2 separate regions of the Homo sapiens genome follow, and region 2 is linked to region 1. Evidence: fine-mapped expression QTL. A gene starts in region 1. The other region holds a variant in brackets. All regions are shown on one strand. Distances are from middle to middle.

Region 1 (11,754 bases):
GGCTGTATGGGTATTGAGACAATGGCTTTACTTTCCCAACTAGTCTTCCATTAAACTCTCATCTCCTAAGGAAACCTGGGTATTTCCTCTCTTGACAGTTGAGGAACAGGAATGGGGAAACTGAGAAACTGTCTTGGTCAGCTCAGGCTGCTACAACAAAATATTGTAGACTGGATGGCTTAAACAATAGACAGTTCTTCCTTACACTTCCCGAGGCTGAAAGTCTGAGATGAGGGTGCCAGCATGGTGGGTTCTGGTGTGGGCTCTCTTCATGGGGAAGGGGAGATCATCTTTCCTGTTTCCTCTTGTAAAGGCACTAATTCCGGCTGGGCGCAGTGGCTCACGCCTGTAATCCCAGCACTTTGGGAGGCTGAGGCGGGTGGATCACGAGGTCAGGAGATAGAGACCATCCTGGCTAACATGGTGAAACCCCGTCTCTACTAAAAATACAAAAAATTAGCCGGGCGTGGTGGCAGGCACCTGTAGTCCCAGTTACTCGGGAGGCTGAGGCAGGAAAATGGCATGAACCCGGGAGGCGGAGCTTGCAGTGAGCTGCGATCGCCACTGCACTCCAGCCTGGGTGACAGAGTGAGACTCTGACTCAATAAATAAATAAATAAATAAATAAATAAAGGCACTAATTCCATCATGAGGGCCCATCTTCATGATTTAATCACCTCCCAAAGGCCCATTTCCAAATATAATCATATTGGGAATTAGGGATTCAACACATAAATTTTGGGGGACACACACATTCAGTCTATAGCAGAAACCAACAGCTCCTCGCATAGAGAGAGCATATAATCTAAGCGAACTGAAAAGGCAACTGACGTAATTTCACTAATCATGTGCCTGAAAGGGTGAGGACAGGATAGGAGGAAGAGGGTGATGAGCCAGAATTGTCTGTAAGCATTTGAAAAAGGTCCTGGACTGACTAAACATTTAACCTGAAGTCATGTGGGTTATTTCTAAAAAGCATAGCAAGTTAAAAAAGGAGGCTGTAGAGCAGAAGCTGGAACAGTCTGTGTGACCTTGGGCAATTCACTGATTCTCTCTGTTCTTTATCTAAGGTTCTTTCCAGGTTTCTAGAACCCAAGTTCAGGCTTAACGGCTAGTTCAGGGTTCCTTTCACACTATATCATGCTGGTCAAGAATAAATTACAAACTTGGCCCTCTAAACTAAAAAATCCAGAAAAGGCTCCTACATCTTTAAGAATTAAATATTAAATAGATCTTCATGAGGAGCAAATCTCTTGTTTTGTCAGCCCTCCCCACTCCCAGTAGGAACTTCTTGCACAAGGCCTTGGCCTATCCAATAGCCAACTATTTTCCAAACCTGATTGAAAATCCAGAGTGAGCATAACTGACTGCTTTCTACCTTGAGCAATGAGACTACATTGTCACTGGAATGTAAATGTCCTATCTAATCAAAGTGACATCTTATTTTGATTTATTGCTGCCTTACTTTTCTTTTAGGGTCATCCTGTATTTCTCTTTTCTCCTAACAGAAAGAGGGCAGGTTGGTGGGTTACTAGGCATTCACCATAGAATGAAACTTGCTAATTGTCACCACTTCTGGGGCCAGGGACATCACCTGCCATAATTCTTCCTACACTTTGCTGGGGCAAGCTCTGTTGAACCAGACTTGAGTGGAGCGACACTGTGTAATGCACTCCAATAGAGTATAGCTAATGCCAAAAGAGAAAAGTGGGAACTGTCTCCTGAAATCTGCCAAAGGTACATGAAAAATTCCAAGGAGAACAAAGGTGACAAATCCCTGCAGTATGCCACATTTTTATTTCCTGAAGATGGAAAGTGCCACAGCATGCTATTCATCTCTGGGGAAACTGAATAAAATGTCTTCTGAGTCACCAGTTTAAAGAGACTTTACTTTAAAAATATAAACTTGATCCTATGAGTTATAATACAGATTGAACTTTATAGTTGTCCTGGAACCTAAATAATTCTAAAAAAGGTTAAAGTATTTCTAACTTTTTAATTCTGCTGCCTAAAATAACTGCTATTAATAATGTATTAGGCCAGTATTATAAAACGCACCTTCTGGATATGTGAAAGTAGAGGTAAAAGATAAGACCTAGCTTGGTTATTAGACAGCAGAGCCTAGTGTTTAGTAGTGCAGGTTCTGGAGTTAAGAGAGTTTGGCTTCAAATTCTAGTTTCACCATTCAATTGCTATGTAACCACTCTAGGCCTCAGTTTCCACATCTGCAAAATGGTAATACCAATAATATTTACTTGAGACTATTGTTGTGAACATGTCAGTAAATAATGTATATAAAGCATTTGTAAGGCACTTAAAATGAACGCTCAACAACTATTGGTGATTACTATTCTAATGACAATTCCTATTAATGAATGAGTTATTTAAATACTTAAAAGTTGAAACTAGTTACCTGTCTTCAAATATGCTAAAGTAACAATCATGCCAGTTAGAATATTATTAAAAATATAGGCCAGGCATTGTAGCTCACGCCTGTAATCTCAGCACTCTGGGAGGCTGAGCCAGGAGGACTGCTTGAGGCCAGAAGTTTGAGACCAGCCTAGGCAACACAGCAAGACCCTATCTCTATAAAAGAAAAAATAATTATACATATATAATTATTTCCTGAATAATATATATGTATGGCATACACAGGTATTGGACAGCCGCCTGCTCTGTTTGGTAAACATTTATCTGCATGCAGATTATGCATTAGCTCCTTCCATTTCCCAATTTTGCACTGAGATGACAACAGAAATGAAATACAGCACTGTGCTGTAGAAGAATTATACCATTTAGCTACGGATCTGTCCATTCTTGCTCATCTGAACCTTTATGTTTTTAGATTCAGGTTCATTTCCTTGAGCCTTCAGGCTGTAGCCCATGTTAATTTGCAAAGCAGTCCAGTAGCCTGTCCTTCACGCTGAAGATATGATAAAGCTTGTGCTTTGAATATCTAGCGCTACCACATCCCCCTTGTGGTCGTGGAGAGTATTTGCAAGGCGCCTGAGAAACCACCAGAAACAGCAAACACACTGGATGTACCCATAGGATCGTAGTTTCCTACACCCTTAGATAACAACATTTGATTCCAGGATTCTTTTTTTTTTTTTTTTTTAGACGGAGTCTTGCTCTGTCGCCCAGGCTGGAGTGCAGTGGCTGGATTTCGGCTCACTGCAAGCTCCGCCTCCCGGGTTCACGCCATTCTCCTGCCTCAGCCTCCCGAGTAGCTGGGACTACATGTGCCCGCCACCGCGCAAGGCTAATTTTTTGTATTTTTAGTAGAGACGGGGTTTCACCGTGGTCTCGATCTCCTGACCTCGTGATCCACCCGCCTCGGCCTCCCAAAGTGCTGAGATTACAGGCGTAAGCCACCGCGCCCGGCCTAATTCCAGGATTCTTTTGATTAACACTTCGTGGCTTTTTAACGTATAGAGCAAGAAAAAGGAAAGCGAACTCTCGGCCGGCGCGGTGGCTCACGCCCATAATCCCAGTATTTTGGGAGGCCGAGGAAGGCGGATCTCTTGAGGTCAGGAGTTCGAGACCAGCCTGGCCAATATGGTGAAACCCCATCTGTACTAAAAATACAAAAAAAAAAAAAAAAAAAGAAGAAGAAAAGAAAAACTCTTAGGAGAACCAGTTAATACAACAGAGAAGTGAGAAGTATGCAGTTTCTCCAATTATTTCCACCTGCCCTTCTCCGCCCCGTCATGTACAACGTAAGAACATAATGTTTTTTATTGCATTTCAATGTTCAATATTATTTGTCACTCCTCTGTCTTCTTTGCATCGGTATATTGTTTTAGAATCTAAATCTCTACAAACAGGAATCATGAGCCTGTTTGGATAGCCTTTAAGAAAGCCTGCCTTCTCATTTTTCTTCCTTTCTCTCTCTTTTTTTTTTGGGGGGGGGGGGGGGCGGAGTCTGGCTCTGTCACCTGGAGTGCAGTGGTGCAATCTCCACTCACTGCAACCTCCGCCTCCTGGGTTCAGGCAATTCTCCTGCCTCAGCCTCCCGAGTAGCTGGGGTTACAGGTGCCCACTACCACGCCTGGTTAATTTTCGTATTTTTAGTAGAGACGAGGATTTCACCATGTTAGCCAGGCTGGTCTCGGACTCCTGACATCAGGTGATCCACCCGCCTCAGCATCCCAAAGTGCTGGGATTACAGGCGTGAGCCACCACGCCCGGCCGCATCTTTCTTTTCTCTCTTTCTCTTTCCTTCCTTTCCTTATTTCCTTTTCTCCTTCCTTCTTTCCCTCCTTCCCTCCCTCCTTCCTTCCTTTCTCCTTTCTTTCTGTTTTTTTGTTTTTTGTTTTTTTTAATGTCTCGCTGTGTCACCCAGACTGGAGTGAAATGGCACAATCATAATCACGACTCACTGCAGCCTCGACCTCTCTTGGCTCAGGTGATTCTTCCACCTCAGCCTCCCGAGTAGCTGGTAGCTGGGACTACAGGTGCACCACCATGCCCGGCTAATTTTTTGTAGAAATGGGGTTTTGCCATGTTGCCCAGGCTGTTCTCAAATTCCTGAACTCAAGTGATCCTCCCACTCCAGCCTCCCAAGTAGGTGGGACTACAGGTGCTTGCTACCATGCCCAGCCAATTTAAAAAAAAAAAAAAAAAAAATTGGCCGGCCGCAGTGGCTCACGCCTGTAATTCCAGCATTTGGGATGCCGAGGCGGGCGGATCCCTTGAGTTCAGGAGTTGGAGACCAGCCTGGGCAACAAGGCGAAACCCCGTCTCTACGAAAAATACAAAAATTAGCCAGGCGTAGTGCCGCATGTCTGTAATCCCAGCTACTCGGGGGAGGGGGGCGCTGAGGCGGCACTGGAATCATCTGAGCCCAGAGAGGTGGAGGCTGCAGTAAGCTGAGACTGCACCACTACACTGCAGCCTGGGCGACAGAGGCTAAAGATGGAGTCTCACTCTGTCGCTCAGGCTGATCTCGAACTCCTGGGTTCAAGTGATCCTCCCACCTCGGCCTCCCAAAGTGCTGGGATTACAGGCGTGAGCCACCGCCTGGCCACCCCTGCCTTCTGAGAGAACTAAAAACAAGAGAAATGAAGTGTTAAGTAACTAGTGAGGATAATATAGTAATAGCTGACAGTTAAGAGTGTGTGGGAGGCTTTTTAAAAACTTTTAGAATCTATATAATCTATAACCCATGTTACGTTAGACTTTTGTTTATTTTCTTACTCCCACTGCCATCCTCCTCAGAATGTAAACTCTTCAGTTAGCTTCTTTCCCTCCCCAACTTTCCCCAACATTTCCTTCACAGTTCCTCACCCAGGGGTGACTACTTAATAATACAGATCTTCCTGAAGAGATAGGGGGTCTGAAACATTTCTCTTTTTTTGAAAGCGGGCTTCCAGGACAAATTGCTTCATCTCCAAAATCAAGTTCAATCTGTCATCAGCCATTCGTTCGTGTTTTGCTTTCGCTGTATTCCTACCACCTGGGAGAGTGACTGACACACGGTAGGCATGCCAAAACATATCTGTTGAATCAATTAATTCCTCTTCTTAAAAATCTAAAACTGGGTTGGGCGCGGTGGCTCACGCCTGTAATCCCAGCACTTTGGGAGGCCGAGGCAGGCAGATCACGAGGTCAGGAGATCGAGACCATCCTGGCCAACATGGTGAAACCCGGTGTCTACCAAAAATATAAAAATTAGCTGGGCGTGGTGGCGCGCGCCTGTAATCCCATCTACTTGGGAGGCTGAGGCAGGAGAATAGCTTGAACCAGGGAGTCAGAGGTTGCAGTGAGCCGAGATGGCGCCACTGCACTCAAGCCTGGCGACAAAGACTGCCTCAAAAAAAAAAACAAAAACCTAAAAACTGGTCACAGGGTAGTGAAGTAGTTGACATCCTGCCACCAGCACAAGGTTTAAAAAGGGCCAGAGGAGTCTCAAGTCAGGCCCAGCACAGTGGGGAGAGGAAGAGCCTGAAGCTCAGCTATTTTTCTTTTTTTTCTTGAGACGGAGTCTCGCTCTGTCGCCCAGGCTGGAGTGCAGTGGCGCGATCTCGGCCCACTGCAAGCTCCGCCTCCCGGGTTCACGCCGTTCTCCTGCCTCAGCCTCCCGAGTAGCTGGGACTACAAGCGCCTGCCACCACGCCCGGCTACTTTTTCGTATTTTCAGTAGAGACGGGGTTTCACCGTGTTAGCCAGGATGGTCTCGATCTCCTAACCTCGCGATCCGCTCGCTTCGGCCTCCCAAAAGTGCTGGGATTACAGGCGTGAGCGCCCGGCCAAGCTCAGCTATTTTTTTTTCCCTTTGTGCAGGCTAATTGGCCTAATGTTCTGTGTGAATCAAACGCTTCGTAGTTGGAAACCCAAGACCCCTGTGATAAAACGCAACACGAAATTGTTTAACGTCTGTCTGCATATCCAAGTGTCTTTCAAGTTGTGAACAACGGGCGGGACCAAACAACAAAAGTACTGACGTCCTCACTTCACAAAGCCACAAGACAAGATGGCGCCGTCCTCCAGGAGCGGGAGCTGGGAACACGTCCACGCCCGGGGGGTGTGCACGCGCCCGGGCTCGCCCCAGGGAACGCTGGCGTGCACTCGGGCACCCAGTGAGCGCCGCAGTTAGTCTCCACCCATGTTTTCCGCCACTCCTTGCGCACATGCGCTCTAGGTTCTTAGCTGGATGTCTGTTGCGCCAACAGGCTCCTCCTCCCGCGCAACTGACGCAAGAAGACTGTAATCGGTTCGCAATTTATCCCGTGTGACCTTGAGTCTTTCCTGTCGCCGAGGACCGGGGCTGTCCGAGATACGGCCTTCATATCCCTCTTCCTCCCCTGGACTCTTTCTGAGCTCAGAGCCGCCGCAGCCGGGACAGGAGGGCAGGCTTTCTCCAACCATCATGCTGCGGAGCATATTACCTGTACGCCCTGGCTCCGGGAGCGGCAGTCGAGTATCCTCTGGTCAGGCGGCGCGGGCGGCGCCTCAGCGGAAGAGCGGGCCTCTGGGCCGCAGTGACCAACCCCCGCCCCTCACCCCACGTGGTTGGAGGTTTCCAGAAGCGCTGCCGCCACCGCATCGCGCAGCTCTTTGCCGTCGGAGCGCTTGTTTGCTGCCTCGTACTCCTCCATTTATCCGCCATGATAAGTGCCAGCCGAGCTGCAGCAGCCCGTCTCGTGGGCGCCGCAGCCTCCCGGGGCCCTACGGCCGCCCGCCACCAGGTGAGGAACTGGGACCTTCCCGAATGGGGTCACGGCCTCGGGCCTTGGGCCTCGGGCTTCGCTGCGGCAGGCCGCGCGCCCTTTAGGGTTTGAATTCTCCAGTATAGGTCAGGCGGGAAGGAAGGTAACGGGCCTTCCATAGTTAGCGCTGCCGGGTCAAGATTTTGCCCAAGGTTTTGCCTCCGGCTTGGGCCCTGCTGAGTCACACCCCTCGCGATCTAGAGTGTCATTTCAAAATTACCAGGTAGTGGTCCTCATGGCCTGTTCTGTGGCTGAATGGAAAGGTTTGGCCTTGGGGGTGAGGGATGCAGTCTATTGGGAAAGCCACTATTTTCAGTTTTATTTTTGGCTCCTCTACAGAATACAGAGTGTGTAAGGATCCCGTTGATACGGTGAAATAAAATAAGAAAGCTCTGAGTCGGAACTCCAGTTTTCGTGCTTAGCAACATTTTCTCAAAATCTGTGGTGTAAGATTGTACTCGTTTGTTACTTCAGAAAAAAAAGCAGATCGTGGGGCGGAGAAAAGGCTATGGAGTGGTTACTTGTTTTCTAAAATAAAAGACAAATGCTTTAGAGAACAGGAATTGTATGTGGGCATTAAGGAAGGCTTGGAAGGAGCCTGAGGTTAAGTTGTAATAAAGGTCTTTTATCCTAGTGAAACGCCACTACTTTTCTTTTTTCTTTCAAAGACCCTTAGTAACTCTAGTTCTTTTAAACTAATTGCACGGCAAGGTAAGGGGAAGTGTTTTCCCCCAGGGGACATCTGGCAATGTCTGTGGATATTTTAGGTTGTCACTTACTTACTGGGGTGCTTATTGGTTTCTAGGGTGTCGAGGCCAGGGATGCTGCTGTATATCCTACAATGCACAGAACAGCCCCCACCACAAAAATTTCGCCCAAAATTAATAGCGCCACGGTTGAGAAATCCTACTGTAATGTGATTCTAAGGCCATCTTTTATTTACCTTTTTTCGTCTTACTTATTTGGGAAACTTTAATATTTACTGTTTTAGTAGCTTAATGTATTTTATATACTAAGTGAGCCCAAGTTTTCTCTTTTTCCTCCCAGGATACACACTGGTTGGTGACTGAGTCAGTTTTTTCTTTTTTAGGATAGCTGGAATGGCCTTAGTCATGAGGCTTTTAGACTTGTTTCAAGGCGGGATTATGCGTAAGTATAATATCATTTCCTTTGAGAGGGAATACATATTAAACTTCAAAGCAGTGTTTTCTACATTTGTGATTATTCTTCTCTGTAATTATTTATCTGTATTTATTTAGAGATTATGTAGTATACCACTGTTAATTTTCCAATTAAATATTATCTTCCAGTGACTTTGGTCTATCAAGATAACAATAGCTGTGACACTGTTCTAAATGTCTTACAGATCAGAAGCAATCAAGGGAGCAGTTGTTGGTATTGATTTGGGTACTACCAACTCCTGCGTGGCAGTTATGGAAGGTAAACAAGCAAAGGTGAGCATGATTGATAACTAGTACCTTATCCAGAATCTGTCCAGAATTCTGTGCTCTTTTCCTTAGTTAAGGAATTTGAGAACCTGATTTGCGCTTTTTTTTTTTTTTTTTTTTTTTTTTTGGAGACAGTCTCTATAGCCCATGGTGGAGTGCAGTGGCACGGTCTCCGCTCACTGCAACCTCTGCCTCCTGGGTTCAAACAGTTCTCCTGCCTTGGCCACATAGCTGGGATTACAGGCATGAACCACCATTCCTGGCTAATTTTTTGTATTTTCAGTAGAGACAGTTCCACTGTGTTGGCCAGGCTGGTCTTGAGCTCAAGTGATCCGCCCACGTTGGCCTCCAAAGTGCTGGGATTACAGATGTGAACCACTAAGCCTGGCCTCGAAGTACTTCCAACTAAAACAGCAAAAACATAACTATAGATCAGGGCTGACCGGGCATAATGGCTCACGCCTGCAGTCCCAGCACTTTGGGAGGCCAAGGGGGGTGGATTACCTGAGGTCCCAAGTTCAAGACCAGCCCGGCCAAAATGGTGAAACCCCGTCTCTACTAAAAATGCAAAAAATTGGCCGGGTACAGTGGCTCACACCTGAAATCCTAGCACTTTGGGAGGCCAAGGCGGGTGGATCACAAGGTCAAGAGATCGAGACCATTCTGGCCAACATGGTGAAACCTGTCTCTACTAAAAATACAAAAATTAGCTGGGCGTAGTGGCACACACCTGTAGTCCCCGCTACTCGGGAGGCTGAGGCAGGAGAATCGCTTGAACCCAGGAGGTGGAGGTTGCAGTGAGCCAAGATCACATCACTGTACTCCAGCCTGGGTGACAGAGCGAGACTTTGTCTCAAAAAAAAAAAAAGAAGAGACTATAGATCAGGTTTTTCATACCCAATGTTGGGACAAGAATCTTTACTTCCACATGGAGAATTATATCTACTTCTAAGTTTTTTGGGGGGTTGGCCACAGATATCAGGCATATAGGAAAAATGCCAAGAAGCCCAAATTAGGGCCAAGAGAAGGAATAATCTCTTGGTGCCAAACAAGTGGGATAAGAAGACCATAGACAGTTCAGGTTATTTCAGAAGAGGAGATTGGGGGGAAAGGAAGTATGAAAGCAAAAGAGGCCATGAATGGAAGAAGCAAGAGTCAAGAATTCCAGGTGTTCTAAATCTTGCTAAGAACCCGGTGGGAATAAAGGTTGCATGTACAGAGTAAGGAGGCTTCAAAAGAAATAGCCTGCTCCAATGAACAACATGCATTACTTCAGAGATGAAGCTCCACTTCTAGTCTGTCTCTGCACACCCAACTTTGTTTCAATTTAGAAAATGCAGCACTTTGGTGGTTACCAGAGTAACCAAACAGTGCAAGCCATTCCCACCCCTCTTAATAGTAAATTAGTAGTCCTACCTCTATACCACATTTAAATCCTTTTCTGGGAAGTTAGATACATACAATTATCAGCACTACAAAGGTTCACCTGACAAGAGTCTTAAGCAACCAAAGCAGTTTTTAAAATGTAAATCAGGGCCAGGCCTGGTGGGTCATGCCTGTAATCCCAACACTTGGGGAGGCCACTTGAGTGTGGGAGTTGAAGATCACCCTAGGCAACATAGCAAAACACTGTCTCTACAAAAAATTAGCCGGGCATAGTGGTGTGCCCCTGTAGTCCCAGCTACTCTGGAGGCTAAGGTGGGAGGATCAGCTGAGGCTGGCAGGTCAATGCTGCAGTGAGCCGTGACAGTGCCACTGCACTCCAGCCTAGGTGACAGTGAGACTCTGTCTCAAAAAAAAAAAAAAAAGCCAGGCGCAGTGCCTCAAGCCTGTAATCCCAGCATTTTGGGAGGCCAAGGTGGGCGGATCGCCTGAGGTCAGGAGTTCGAGACCAGCCTGGCCAACTTGGCAAAACCCCATCTCTACTAAAAGTACACACACACACACACACACACAAAATTAGTTGGGTGTGGTGGCAGGCACCTGTAATCCCAGCTACTCAGGAGGCTGAAGTAGGAGAATTGAACCCAGGACAGGGAGTTTGCAGTGAGCCGAGATCGCGCCACTGCACTCCAGTCTGGGTGACAAGAGCGAGACTCCCTCTCAAAAAAAAAAAAAAAATAGTAGTTTGAAAGTAAAGGGCTAAAGATACCTTAACTAAATATCTACTGTTCATTAACTATCAGCAGTAAAGCATGCCCGGTAGTATTGTTGATGTGCATTTGTTTCGCAATTTGGGAGCTGTTTCTGTGTCTTAAATGATTGCTGCAAACATACCAGTAATAGGCTGGGCGTATTGGCTCATGCCTGTATCGCAACACTTCGGGAGGCTGAGGCGGGCAGATCACCTGAGGTCAGGAGTTCGAGACCAGCCTGGCCAAAATGGTGAAACCCCCGTCTCTACTAAAAAATGCCGAAAAATTAGCTTGGTGTGGTGGTGCACGCCTATAGTACCAGCTACTAGGGAGGCTGAGACAGAAGAATCGCTTGAACCCAGGATGCGGAGGTTGCAGTGAGCCAAGATTGTGCCATTGTACTCCAGCCTTAGCGACAGAGTGAGACTCCATCTCAAAAAACATACCAGTGATAACTACAAACTTACTCTCTATCACATTTTGGGAGTTTAGGTGCTGGAGAATGCCGAAGGTGCCAGAACCACCCCTTCAGTTGTGGCCTTTACAGCAGATGGTGAGCGACTTGTTGGAATGCCGGCCAAGCGACAGGCTGTCACCAACCCAAACAATACATTTTATGCTACCAAGCGTCTCATTGGCCGGCGATATGATGATCCTGAAGTACAGAAAGACATGTGAGTAACAGCAAAAGTTTTTTGCAAAAAGCAGTTATTTGCAAGGGCCACACAGAAGAGCCTCAGCATGTTGATGAGGATCCCTGGAGCACCTTACTTTAGTAATTTTACTTATTGTCCCTAGGGGAAATCTGTACCACTGCCAAAAGGGTAATCCCTTTAAAAAATTCATTTTTGGCCAGTGCAGTGGCTCACACCTGTAATCCTAGCACTTTGGGAGGCCGAGGTGGGTGGATCACCTGAAGTCAGGAGTTCAAGACCAGCCTGGCCAACATGGTGAAACCCT
Region 2 (12,105 bases), 91 kb after region 1:
CTAGACCATCCTGTGAAGGCAGAAAGAACCTGGGGGAAGTCGAGGTTCCCATCACAGCCAGAAACTGGTATCTAGGACACCGTCCCCTCCCACGCCTGCTGTCAGTACCACACCCACACATTTCACCAAGAGATGGGTATCAATCTCAGAGAAGCATTTCCCAATCCTCGCTTGCTGGCCCTGCCCTGCCCTCATCAGTCCTGCCCATCCCGGAGTCCCACTGAAATCTAACCTGAATCCTCCTGTTCCATCCTGCTGAGCAGCAGTCCGCAGTCCCTGATAGATTCCAGGCAAGTTTGTGGACACACAATAGATGCATGTCACCCACAGCCTTGTTTCCTTTCATCCCTGTCAGGCAAGGAGGCTGTCGTTGGCATGGTAACTTTCCCTGTAAAAGTTGCAGCCCTCAAGGATGTTTTTCAATTCCAGCAGGGACACAGCTCCTTCCCGACATTGTAGACTACGGGGTGACATGTAGATGTGTCATTCTGGCCTCCCCCGGAATGGGGACATGGAGCTGGCAGCACAAAAGGATGGGTTCGTGGAGGGCAGCAAAAGGCTTAAGGGAGATGTCGATTGGATCTCTGAGGAACAGGTTCCTTCTGCCCTGTGTTCTGATACTCTGCCACCCAGAGAAACCAGTTCTGAGGCCCAGAATATTTCGGGAGACTCTTGGGATCTCATAGTGAAAGATAAACACATATCTTCGCTAGAACCAGGCCCCTGACAAATAGCATGATGCCCAGGGCTTAATTCCATAGAATAAGCTGATAAATCATAAAGCCTCCAAAATCCAGCGATTTCCTTTCTCTTCGATTCCTCTGTGGAATAAATGAATATTTATTAGCCATCTCCCGTGTCCCAGCTTCCCATACATCATTTCAACTAATTCTCTGCACAGTTCCTATGAGGGACGTATTACAACATTCATTTTGCAAATAGGGAAACTAGAATTTGGGGAAAGATCTTAAGCACCTTGACCAAAAATCACACGGCCGTGGAGTGGCAGCACCAGGGCTGGGACCCCATTCTTCAGAGCCCAACCCCGTACCTTTTCCACTAGTTCTGTGTTCCTTTATATTTGCTTCTGTGCTACAGGTAAAGATAGTCTTCCCCGCAGGCTCCAAGGCACTGCCTTTCTAGGGAGTCCTCAGCAAGGAAAGGTGGCATCAGCATCTGCCTCTGGGCCCATGTGTTCCTGTGTGGCCCTGCCTGGCACTGCAGCAGCCCCAGCAGCCCCAATCCAGAGGCTTCTCCCTGCCAGCTGCCTTGTCTCCGTCATGGAGTTTCCCCGGCAGAGGGCAAGCGGAGGGAAAGTGGTTCCCAGCTGCCAGCTTCATCTAGGCAAAATCACTTTTGAGCCAGCCCTGGCTTCCCTCAGTCCCTCCAGAGGAGCACATTCAGCTCCCCCGCAAAAAGGAGGCGGGGAGAGACACAGAAAAGAAGGGAACTTCCATGTCTTTCTCTCCCTGGCTGGGAAGCACTTGGCTTTGGGCTGCCACTCATCTTGTAGGTGGGGAAGATTAATACTGATCCTCTTGAGTTACAGAAGTCTCTAAAATGAACCCTTGGGCAGAGCTTTGTCCAAGAGAGATGCTCGTGGAAAGCCCTGGGTCTGAGTGCGGTGGGAGGGGAGACGCAGGTCTCAGCAAGGACAGAGACCCCTGGATCTCCTCCTGCTCTCCCACGTGCTCTCTTCTGAGTGCATTCTTCTGTCCAAAAAGATAAGAAGGGTCATTTCCTGGCAAATGGAACAGGGTCAGGGAGAAAGCAAGAAGAGGAGGGAACTATCGGGTTTTGACCTTGAGCAAAACAGGGAAGGTGTTGATAGTGTTAATAGTTAACATTTACCCACAGTGTGTCAACCACTCTTCATTTATTATCTCATTTAATCCCCCCTCAGGTAATCCTACTGTTATCTCTGTTTTAGAGATAAGGAAATTGAGGCATATGGACTCCTCAGTAACAACTCCCAATTTATGAGAGATTTGGCCAGCTTGGGCAACATGGCGAGACCCCCTCGCTACCAAAAATACAAAAATTAGCCAGGCGTGGTAGTGCCTGCCTATAGTCCCAGCTACTCAGGAGGCTGAAGTAGGGGAGGATTGCTTGAGCCTGGGAGGTCGAGGCTTCGGTGAGCCGAGATTGCGCCACTGCACTCCAGCCTGGGTGACAGAGTGAGACTCTATCTCTTAAAAAAAGAGAGCCAGCCCAGCACTCTGTAGACATTGCCTCATTTAACCCGCATAAACCAATGAGATGAAACCATTATGGCCATTTTATTTTGCTTTTTTTTAAAACTTTAATTATTTTAAATTTCTTATTTTTTTTAACACCTACTAGAATGAGAATTACTCCCATTTTCTACAGGTGAAAACTGAGGTTCAGAGAAGTAGGGAACTTGCCTGTGATCATGAAGTATGTAAATGGCAGACCAAGGGCTCAGAATTTGGGTCTGTGTGACTCCAGAGCACGTGTGCTTGTCCTTTTTGCCCTGCTGTCTCCTGACTCACCAAGGCTTCTTCACCGCCCCTAGGGCTCCTGCTCAGATAGGCTGAGACCACAAAAATCTGCCCACACCTACATTTCCCTAGTGCTCCACACACAGATTAAAACTTGGCTGCTGTTCACTTTGTTTGTTCACACTTGCCACCAGAGCATGTATGGGGCGTGGACAGATAGGCATGGGTGATACGGGGCCCTGTGTCTTGGGACTCTGGCTGTCAACTGGACTCTCTCTCCCAACCCGGACTCCAGAAGCAGGAGACTTGAGAGGTCTCCACTACCCTTCCCAAGCCTTGAAATTTTCCTAAGAGACCAAGATGTCTCCATTGAACAGCCTCGGGAGATCTCCTGAAGACCCAAGGAGGTGCTTCTTGGAGAAGAGGCTGGAGAGCCCAGCAGTTTTTTGTTTGTTTGTTTGTTTGTTTGAGACCACGTCTTGCTCTGTTGCCCAGGCTGGAGTGCAGTGGTACCATCTTCACTCACTGCAACCTCCGCCTCCCAGGTTCAAGTGATTTTTCTGCCTTAGCCTCCTGAGTAGCTGGGAATACAGGCACGTGCCACCACGCCAGGCTGGAGTGCAGTGGTGTGATCTCGGCTCACTGCAATCTCTGTCTCTGGGGTTCAAGTGATTCTCCTGCCTTAGCCAGCAGCTGGGACTACAGGTGCGCACCACCATGCTCGGCTAATTTTTTGTATTTTAGTAGAGACGGGGTTTCACCATGTTGGCCACGTTGGTCTTGAACTCCTGACCTCGTGATCCATCCACCTTGGCCTCCCAAAGTGCTGGGATTATAGGCGTGAGCCACCGTGCCTGGCCAAAATGCAAGAGAAACTCCCCAGAATGGGCGCCCATCTCCAGAGTTGGAGGCAAGCACACCAACCAACTGCACCACACAAATGGTCACTAATCTTTGTATTTTTAGTAGAGATGGGGTTTCACCATGTTGGCCAGGCTAGTCTCGAACTCCTGACCTCAAGTGATCCACCTGCCTTGGCCTCCCAAAGTGTTGGCATTACAGGCATGAGCCACCGGGCCCAGCCAAGCCCAGCAGTTTTAATCAGGGAGACCTCAGCCGGGCGCGGTGGCTCACGCCTGTAATCCTAGCATTTTGGGAGGCCGAGGCGGGTGGATCACGAGGTCAGGAGAACTAGACCATCCTGGCTAACATGGTGAAACCCCATCTCTACTAAAAATAAAAAAAATTAGCCGGGCGTGATGGCGAGTGCCTGTAGTCTCAGCTACTGGGGAGGCTGAGGCAGGAGAATGGCGTGAACCCGGGAGATGGAGCTTGCAGTGAGCCGAGATCGCGCCACTGCACTCCAGCCTGGGTGACAGAGCGAGACTCCATCTCAAAAAAACAAACAAACAAACAAACAAAAAAATCAGGGAGACCTCTCATCTATCACTGAAGGCCTTTAGCCAGCCTGGCTCCCATAGCTCACAGAGCTCCTCTGCATGGTGACAGGAGCATGACTCCAAGGCTGCCACCCACGCTGTGGGCCTGAGGGGGTGGGAAACACTTTAAATCCTGAGTCAGAGGAAAGGTTCCACTTCACTTGCCCTGGAACAGAAAGCCAAGGATGCTGCAGTCTGTATGGAGAAGAAGGGGAACTGGAAATTGAGAAAGAATAGTGCTTACTTCCTTCCCTACCATCTCTTATTTTTAAAACATTTTATTTATTTATTTTTTATTCCACCATATGTGATTCATGCTCATTGCAGAAAATACATGTGATGGAAATAAGCTTCATTAGTTTGAGTGTTTCTCCCTGTTTTCTCTCCTCTCACCCATCCACAAAAGGTTTCCAGCTCAGAATTCATGCCCACTCCCAACTCCAAGAGTCTGCTCTCAGCCATCCCCAGTCCGGCATCTTTTGTGATGCAGAATCAAAATGAGTGGGTGAGGGTGCTGGTTAGAGACAGGAGGAGATGGAGAGCTAGAGAGGCTGGGAGAAAGAAGGACTTAGGCAGAGAGGCTAAATCCATCTATATAATAAAGAACAAGGAAGGGGAAGAGAGAAGGGAAAGAGAGGGGGTAGAAAGGAAAGGTTAGGAGGAATTTTATAGAGTACAGTATTGCTCTGAGGCATTAAGTAGACACCCTGTAGTTTTCCAAGTCAAGATTGGATTTATTTTTGTTTTCTGTCTCCAGTATCATAATCCTTTTTTTTTTTTTTTTTTTTTTTTGAGACGGAGTTTCGCTCTTGTTGCCCAGGCTGGAGTGCAATAGCGCAATCTTGGCTCACCACAACCTCTGCCTCCTGGGTTCAAGCAATTCTCCTGCCTCAGCCTCCCGAGTAGCTGGCATTAACAGACATGCGCCACCACGTCTGGCTGATTTTGTATTTTTGATAGAGACAGGGTTTCTCCATGTTGGTCAGGCTGGTCTTGAACTTCCGACCTCAGGTGATCCTCCAACCTCGGCCTCCCAAAGTGCTAGGATTACAAGCTTGAGCCACCGCACCAGGCCAGGATCATAATTTTTTATTTGCAACTCCATGGAGAGCCTTGACCATGTAGACATTCAGAATTTCTTTTTTTTTTTTTTCTTTTTTTGAGACGGAATCTCGCTCTGTCGCCCAGGCCGGAGTGCAGTCACACGATCTCGGCTCACTGCAACCTCCGCCTCCCGGGTTCACGCCATTCTCCTGTCTCAGCTTCCCGAGTAGCTGGGACTACAGGCGTTCGCCACCATGCCCAGCTAATTTTTTGTATTTTTAGTAGAGATGGGTTTTCACCGTGTTAGCCAGGATGGTCTCGATCTCCTGACCTCGTGATCCGCCCGCCTCAGTCTCCCAAAGTGCTGGAATTACATGTGTCAGCCACTGCGCCCAGCTGACATTCAGAATGTCTTTGGGGTTCCATACAGGAAAGTACAAAATATTGTCATTTGACAAATGAAAGAAGAGACTTGAGTATTTATCGTGCTTTCTTTACAATTATGATTTAGTCTAGAAAAATTCTGGCTAACAAATGCAAACGGAATGATAGAATTATAAAATCACCCTTTGGCCAAGTACATTGACTCATGCCTGTAAACCCAGCACATTGGGAGGCCAAGGCGAGCAGATCACTTGAGGTCAGAAGTTCAAGACCAGCCTGGCCAACATGGTGAAACCCCATCTCTACCAAAAATACAAAAATTAGCCGGTTATCATGGCGTGCACCTGTAGTCCCAGCTACTCAGGAGGCTGAAGCAGGAGAATCGCTTGAACCTGGGAGGAGGAGGTTGCAGTGAGCCGAGATCACGTCATTGTGCTCAGTCTGGGTGACAAGAGCGAAACTCCATCTCAAAAAAATAGAAAAACAAAAAATAAATAAAATCACCCTTTTAACCCCTAATGAGATAATAGATTTAGATAAGGATCATTGATCATCGGAGATTTCTGTAACCATTGCATGAAAGGTATAGAGAAACTTTGTAATGCCAGTGATACTTGGACCCATCAATCAATCTGGGTTTTTTTCAGAGACAGGGTCTCCTATGTTGCTTAGGCTGGAGTGCAGTGGCTATTCACAGGTGCAATCATAGCTCACTATAGCCTCAAACTCCTGGGCTCAAAGGATCTTCCTGCCTTAGCCTCTTGATTAGCTGGGACTACAGGCACCTGGCTGATTAATTCATTTTAACATCACGCACACAAAAAGAGAACTAACCAAGAGAATTGAAAACATAT[G/C]TTTGTACAGAAACCTGTACATAATGTTCACAGCAACAAGTATTATTCAAATAGCTAAAAAGTGGAAACAATTCAAATGTCCATCAACTGATGAATGGATAAATAAAATGTGGTGTGTCCATATAATGGAATATGATTCAGATATAAAGAGGAGTGAAGTACTGAGACATGCTACAAAATGGATGAACCTTGAAAACATTATGTTCAGCGAATGGAGCCAGACACAAAAGGCCATATATTATTTAATGCTATGTATATGAAATATCCAGAACAGGCAAACTGGTAGAGACAGAAAGTAGATTAGTAGTTGTCAGTGATTTGGGGGCAGGGGGTGGTAAGGAATGGAGAGTGTCTGCTAACAGGTACAGGGTTTATTTTGGGGATAATTGTAATGTTCTGGAATTAGTGGCAACGGATGTGCAACACTACAAATATACTAAAATTCATTGAATTGTACACTTTATTTTTATTTTTTTATTTTTTATTTTTGAGATGGAGTCTTACTCTGTCGCCCAGGCTGGAGTGCAGTGGCGCGGTCTCGGCTCACTGCAAGCTCTGCCTCCCAGGCTCACACCATTCTCCTGCCTCAGCCTCCCGAGTAGCTGGGACCACAGGCGCCCACCACCAAGCCCGGCTAATTTTTTGTATTTTTAGTAAGGACGGGGTTTCACCGTGTTAGCCAGGATGGTCTCGATCTCCTGACCTCGTGATCTGCCCGCCTAGGCCTCCCAAAGTGCTGGGATTACAGGCTTGAGCCACCGCGCCCGGCCTGTACACTTTAAATGGAGAATTTTATGTTATGTGAATTATATTTCACCATTTAGAAATCCCATATAGGAAACTAAAGAGAGAGAGAAAAAAAATAAAACCCTAAAAATTATGTACTTCTTGTTATGTTGCAATACCAAGTGTATAGCATCACCTAAAAAGTGAACCCGAGTCGGATCCAGCCTCTGGGTGTAACAACCAGTTTATGTGAAATTGATGGGATAAAAGGACATATTGAACAGAATTATAAGGGGGGAAACAAGGCAATGTGTACAATTCAAAAAGTGGGAAATTCTTCAGGACAAATAACCTGTTTTCTTCAAGACAAATAACCTGTTTTCTTCAACAAATAGATAGCAAAAGGAACTATTGTGGCTGAAAAGAAACTTTAAAGACATCGACCAAATGCAAAGTGTGGTCTTTTTTGGGTTCTGATTCCAGCAAAAGAACTTAAAAATACTTATGAAGATATACACTGAAGTATTTACAGATGAAATTATATAATGTCTGGGATTTGCTTCAAAATAATCCAGTGTGTGGGGGTGAGGGTAGGGAAGAGGGTGTTATAGAAGAAACAAGACTGCTGTGAAATGATCATTGTTGAACTGGTTGATAGATACAGGGAGGTTATTACATCATTTCCCCCTACTTTTGAGGATATTTAAGATTTTCTACAATAAAAATTATGAAGTTTGATCTAGCCACAAAATTGATATTTAGAATTTATTTTTAGAATTTACATATATGTGGGCCGGGTGCAGTGGCTCACGCCTATAATCCCAGCACTTTGGGAGGCCAAGGTGGGGGATCACGAGGTCAGGAGATCCAGACCATCCTGGCTAACACGGTGAAACCCCGTCCTTACTAAAAATACAAAAAATTAGCCGGGCGTGGTGGTGGACGCCTGTAGTCCCAGCTACTTGGGAGGCTGAGGCAAGAGAATGGCGTGAACCTGGAAGGCAGAGCTTGCAGTGAGCCGAGATCGCACCTCTGCACTCCAGCCTGGGCGACAGAGCGAGACTCCGTCTCAAAAAAGAAAAAAAGAGAAAAGATTGAATAGTTGCGTTTCAGGTATCCCAGACCTTATTGAAAGCTGAAATTAAAAGGCATGCATACAGTCCGAAGTGATCCATCTAAATTACTGTTATTATTGCTACATCAGAAGTAGAGGACTCTCCTGAGGAGACAGGAAGCAGTGTAGCTTTTCAGACACCCAGAAACACCATCAAAAGTAGTGGCGTGCCAACACACTAATGCCATCTCAGTCCCTGTTGCCTTCAGGAAAAGTACAACCCCTTGGACTGTTACTGAGGGCCTTCCAAATCTGGCCCCAACCTGCCCTTCCAGCCACATTCCCTGCCCCTCCCCTCCGTACTTCCTGCCGCCCCACCATTAATTTGCTGGTTCCTGAACACACCTCCCTGGCTTTGCACTTGCTGTTCCCTTGCCCGCACGTCCTCCTGTGAACTCCTGGTCTTCCTTCTACACCCCATTCCTCCATCTCTCCTCTTGACAGAATTAGTCACTCCCTGCTCTGTACACACCTCTCATATATCACACTATGGTAATTATTTCTTTCTGAATCTTTCTGCATGCAATGTGGTGCTGCCCCAGACTCTATCCTGTTTATCTGTATGTGCTTAGGGCCTGACATAAAGTAGGTATTTGATAATACATCTTGGATAAATTTTGATCTATTCATGATAGAGCAAAGGAGCCACATAGACTCTGGATGAACTAGTACTGAGGATGACCCCAAGAGAGTCACCCAGACTTGAGCTCTTCTTTCTAAGGGGTGCCTACGAAATTGTAGAACAATAAAAACAAAGTCTGACCCAAGAATAACCAACAGGAACACCTGGCTAACACCAATTCAGTAATAAGCAAAAGAAAGATATTTAAGAGAAAGGCTTTGAGCCTAGTGCTTTGTGTGAGTTGTACATGGGGAATGAAGATGGAAAGAGAATTCAGTGATGGGGGCGAGATCTCACGAGTTCTCTAAGAAATAGTTGAGGGAGCTTGATGAACTAATAAAATAACACTTTCTGGTTTTTAAAAAACCTACAGCCCCCAAATTTAGAAGCCAACAGCAGTTGTCTGGTGCTTCTATCCCGCCAGCCTCTAACAGACAGACCATCCACTTACGGGGAATGTTAAACAACTTGCATCCGCTCAGCAAAAGCCTAGAGGCCTGAGTCCCTAGGAAATCTTTCCCATCTTTGTTTGTTTGTTTGTTTTGTTTTGTTTGAGACAGAGTCTCACTCTGTCACCCAGGCTGGAGTGCAGTGGTGTAATCACAGCTTATTGCAACCTCCGCCTCCCCGGTTCAAGCGATTCTCATGCCTCCGTCTCCTGAGTAGCTGGGATTACAGGCACCTGCCACCATGCCTGGCTAATTTTTGTATTTTTTTTTTAGTAGAGATGCGGTGTCACCATGTTGGCCAGGCTGGTCTTGAACTCCTGACCTCAAGTGATCCACCCGCCTCGGCCTCCCAAAGTGCTGGGATTACAGGCATCAGCCACCGTGCCAGGCGTGTTTTCTTTTGTTTTCTTTTGAGGCTAGGTTTCGCTTAGTTGCCCAGGCTGCAGTGCAGTGAAGATCATAGCTCACTGCAGCCTCAAACTCCTGGTCTCAGGCGATCCTCTGACCTCAGCCTCCCTAGTAGCTGCGACTACAGGCATGTGCCACCACACCCAGCTAATTTTTTGTACTTTTTGTAGAGACAGGGTCTCTCTATGTTGCCCAGGCTGGTCTTGAACTTTTGGTCTCAAACCATCCTTCTGCCTCAGCCTCCCAAAGTGCTGGGATTATAGGTATCAGCCATTCCACCTGGACCCATCTTTATTTTTTACCAGTCTTTAACAGCTTATTATCAAAGGGTCATACTCCCGCAATGCAAGAAAATAGTCCATCAGAGGACCTTTATAATAAACCAGATTCTAGAAAATATTTACTTGCTTATCTAGTCTTTTTCTTTTGCTTTCTTAAATAGAACAATTTTCTTCCAATGATAAAAACATCTGCTCACCGGCCACAGTGGCTCACACCTGTAATCCCAGCACTTTGGGAGGCCAAGGAGGGCAGATCACCTGAGGTCAGGAGTTCAAGACCAGCCTGGCTAATATGGCGAAACCCCATCTCTACTAAAAATACAAAAATTAGCCAGGCGTGGTGGCACAGCACTAGCTACTCAGGAGGCTGAGGCAGGAGAATCGCTTTAACTCAGGAGGTGGAGGTTGTAGTGAGCCAAGATCACGCCACTGCACTCTAGCCTGGGCGACAGAGCAAGACTCCGTCTCAGAAACAAACAACAACAACAACAAAAATCAGCTCATTTGGAAAACACAGAAAAGTATAGAAAATAAAAGTTAGTCTGGGCACGGTGGCTCACACCTGTAATCCCAGCACTTTGGGAGGCCAAGGAGGAAGGATCACCTGAGGTCGGGAGTTCGAGGCCAGCCTGACCAATATGGAGAAACCCCGTCTCTACTAAAAATATAAAATTAGCCAGACGTAGTGGAGCATGCCTGAAATCCCAGCTACTCGGGAGGCTGAGGCAGGAGAATTGCTTGAATCCATGAGACAGAGGTTGTGGTGAGACGAGATCACGCCACTGCACTCCAGCGTGGGCAAGAGCAAAACTCCGTCTCAAAAAAAAAAAAAAAAAGAGAAAAGAAAAAGAAAGAAAAGAAAGAGGCCGGGCACGGTGGCTCATGCCTGTAATCCCAGCACTTTGGGAGGCTGAGGAGGGCGGATCATGAGGTCAGGAGATCAAGACCATCCTGGCTAACACAGTGAAACCCCGTCTCTACCAAAAATATAAAAAATTAGCTGGGCGTGGTGGCGGGTGCCTGTAGTCCCAGCTACTCGGGAATGGCGTGAACCTGCGAGGCGGAGGTTGCAGTGAGCTGAGATCACGCCACTGCACTCCAGCCTGGTTGACAGAGTGAGACCCTGTCTCAAAAAAAAAAATACACTACCTAGAATGACAATCACCAGCATTTGATGTATAATGATGTTATATGTGCATGTATTTTATAAAATTGGAATCGTACCATGTAAAGTTTTATATCTTACTTTCATTCCTTAGTATTATATTGTGAGCATTTTCAGGTCAATAGTTATTTTATAACATGATTTATAATGACTGCCTAGTAATTCATCATATGATATAACAGTTTATTTCAGCCATCACCCATCAGACATGTATGCTGTTGCCATTTTTCTCCATTACACATAATACTGTGATTAAAAGCAGTCGTGGTAGAATTGCTAGGAAAGAAGGCATGAACTTTTTTTTTTCCTTTTGAGACGGAGTCTCGCTCTGTCTCCAGGCTGGAGTGCTGTGGCTAGACCTCGGCTCACTGCAACCTCCACCTCCCGGGTGGCATGAACTTTTACAAGGCTCTGAGTACGTGCTTGTAGCCCTCAGGAAAACTGGGCCCAATTCATTCTCCCTCCATCAGCATGTTAGTTTCATGTGTCAAAGCTTTCTCTTCTTTCAACATGTGTGAAAAAGGTATGCTTTTATATTTTTCACAATGAATATATATCTCATAATAAGAAAAAAATTCACATTACTCTTTGTTGTTTTGTTTTGTCTTGTTTTTTATCTTTTTTTTTTTTTTGAGACAGGGTATTGCTCTTTCAGCCAGGCTGGAGTACAGTGATGAGATCTCGGCTCACTGCAACCTCCACATCCCAGGATCAAGCATTTCTCCCACCTCAGCCTCCCAAGTAGCTGGGACAACAAGTGCGCCATCATACTCCTCTAATTTTTTTATTTTTTGTAGAGATGGGGTTTCACCATGTTGCCCAGGCTGGTCTCGAACTCCTGGGCTCAAGCAGTGCACCTGCCTCGGCCTCCCAAAGTGCTGGGATTACAAGCATGAGCCACTGCGCCTGGCCAACATTACCTTTTCAAAGAAGAAAAAAAATAAACATTATTTCCCCCATGAAGTAGATGGGGAAACTGAAGCCCAGGGATGAATAACCTAAAGACTTGCCTTACGAAGGCTGACAGCTGGACCTGAGGAGATGGAAAAAAATGTTTCCGAGTAGAAACAAGATACTTCTTGTTTTTTTGTTTTTTTGTTTTTTTTGAGACAGAGTCTCGCTCTGTCACCCAGGCTGGAGTGCAGTGGCGCGATCTC

The links. PIP is the estimated chance that this variant, and not a neighbour inherited with it, causes the effect. A credible set is the group of variants that fine-mapping cannot tell apart.
Region 2: its variant is the best candidate, but not a certain one, in a credible set for the expression of HSPA9 in whole blood (INTERVAL, PIP 0.56).

What each region holds. Positions count from the first base shown.
Region 1 is chr5:138,570,674-138,582,427 of GRCh38, reverse strand. HSPA9 (heat shock protein family A (Hsp70) member 9) reads left to right here and starts at 7,027. Exons shown (of 17, transcript NM_004134.7): 1 at 7,027-7,190; 2 at 8,302-8,360; 3 at 8,578-8,665; 4 at 11,287-11,468. The coding sequence starts at 7,110. It overlaps LOC105379193 (a long non-coding RNA gene), which reads right to left and starts at 11,350. Exons shown (of 3, transcript XR_001742900.1): 1 at 11,262-11,350. RefSeq lists enhancers at 6,433-6,572, 6,150-6,798, 6,713-6,992, 7,233-7,282, 6,799-7,446 and 1 more.
Region 2 is chr5:138,479,137-138,491,241 of GRCh38, reverse strand. No RefSeq gene overlaps it. Among named protein-coding and RNA genes, the nearest start is that of EGR1, 20 kb to the right of the region's middle. RefSeq lists an enhancer at 1-243. The variant G/C (reference allele first, on the strand shown) is at 6,184.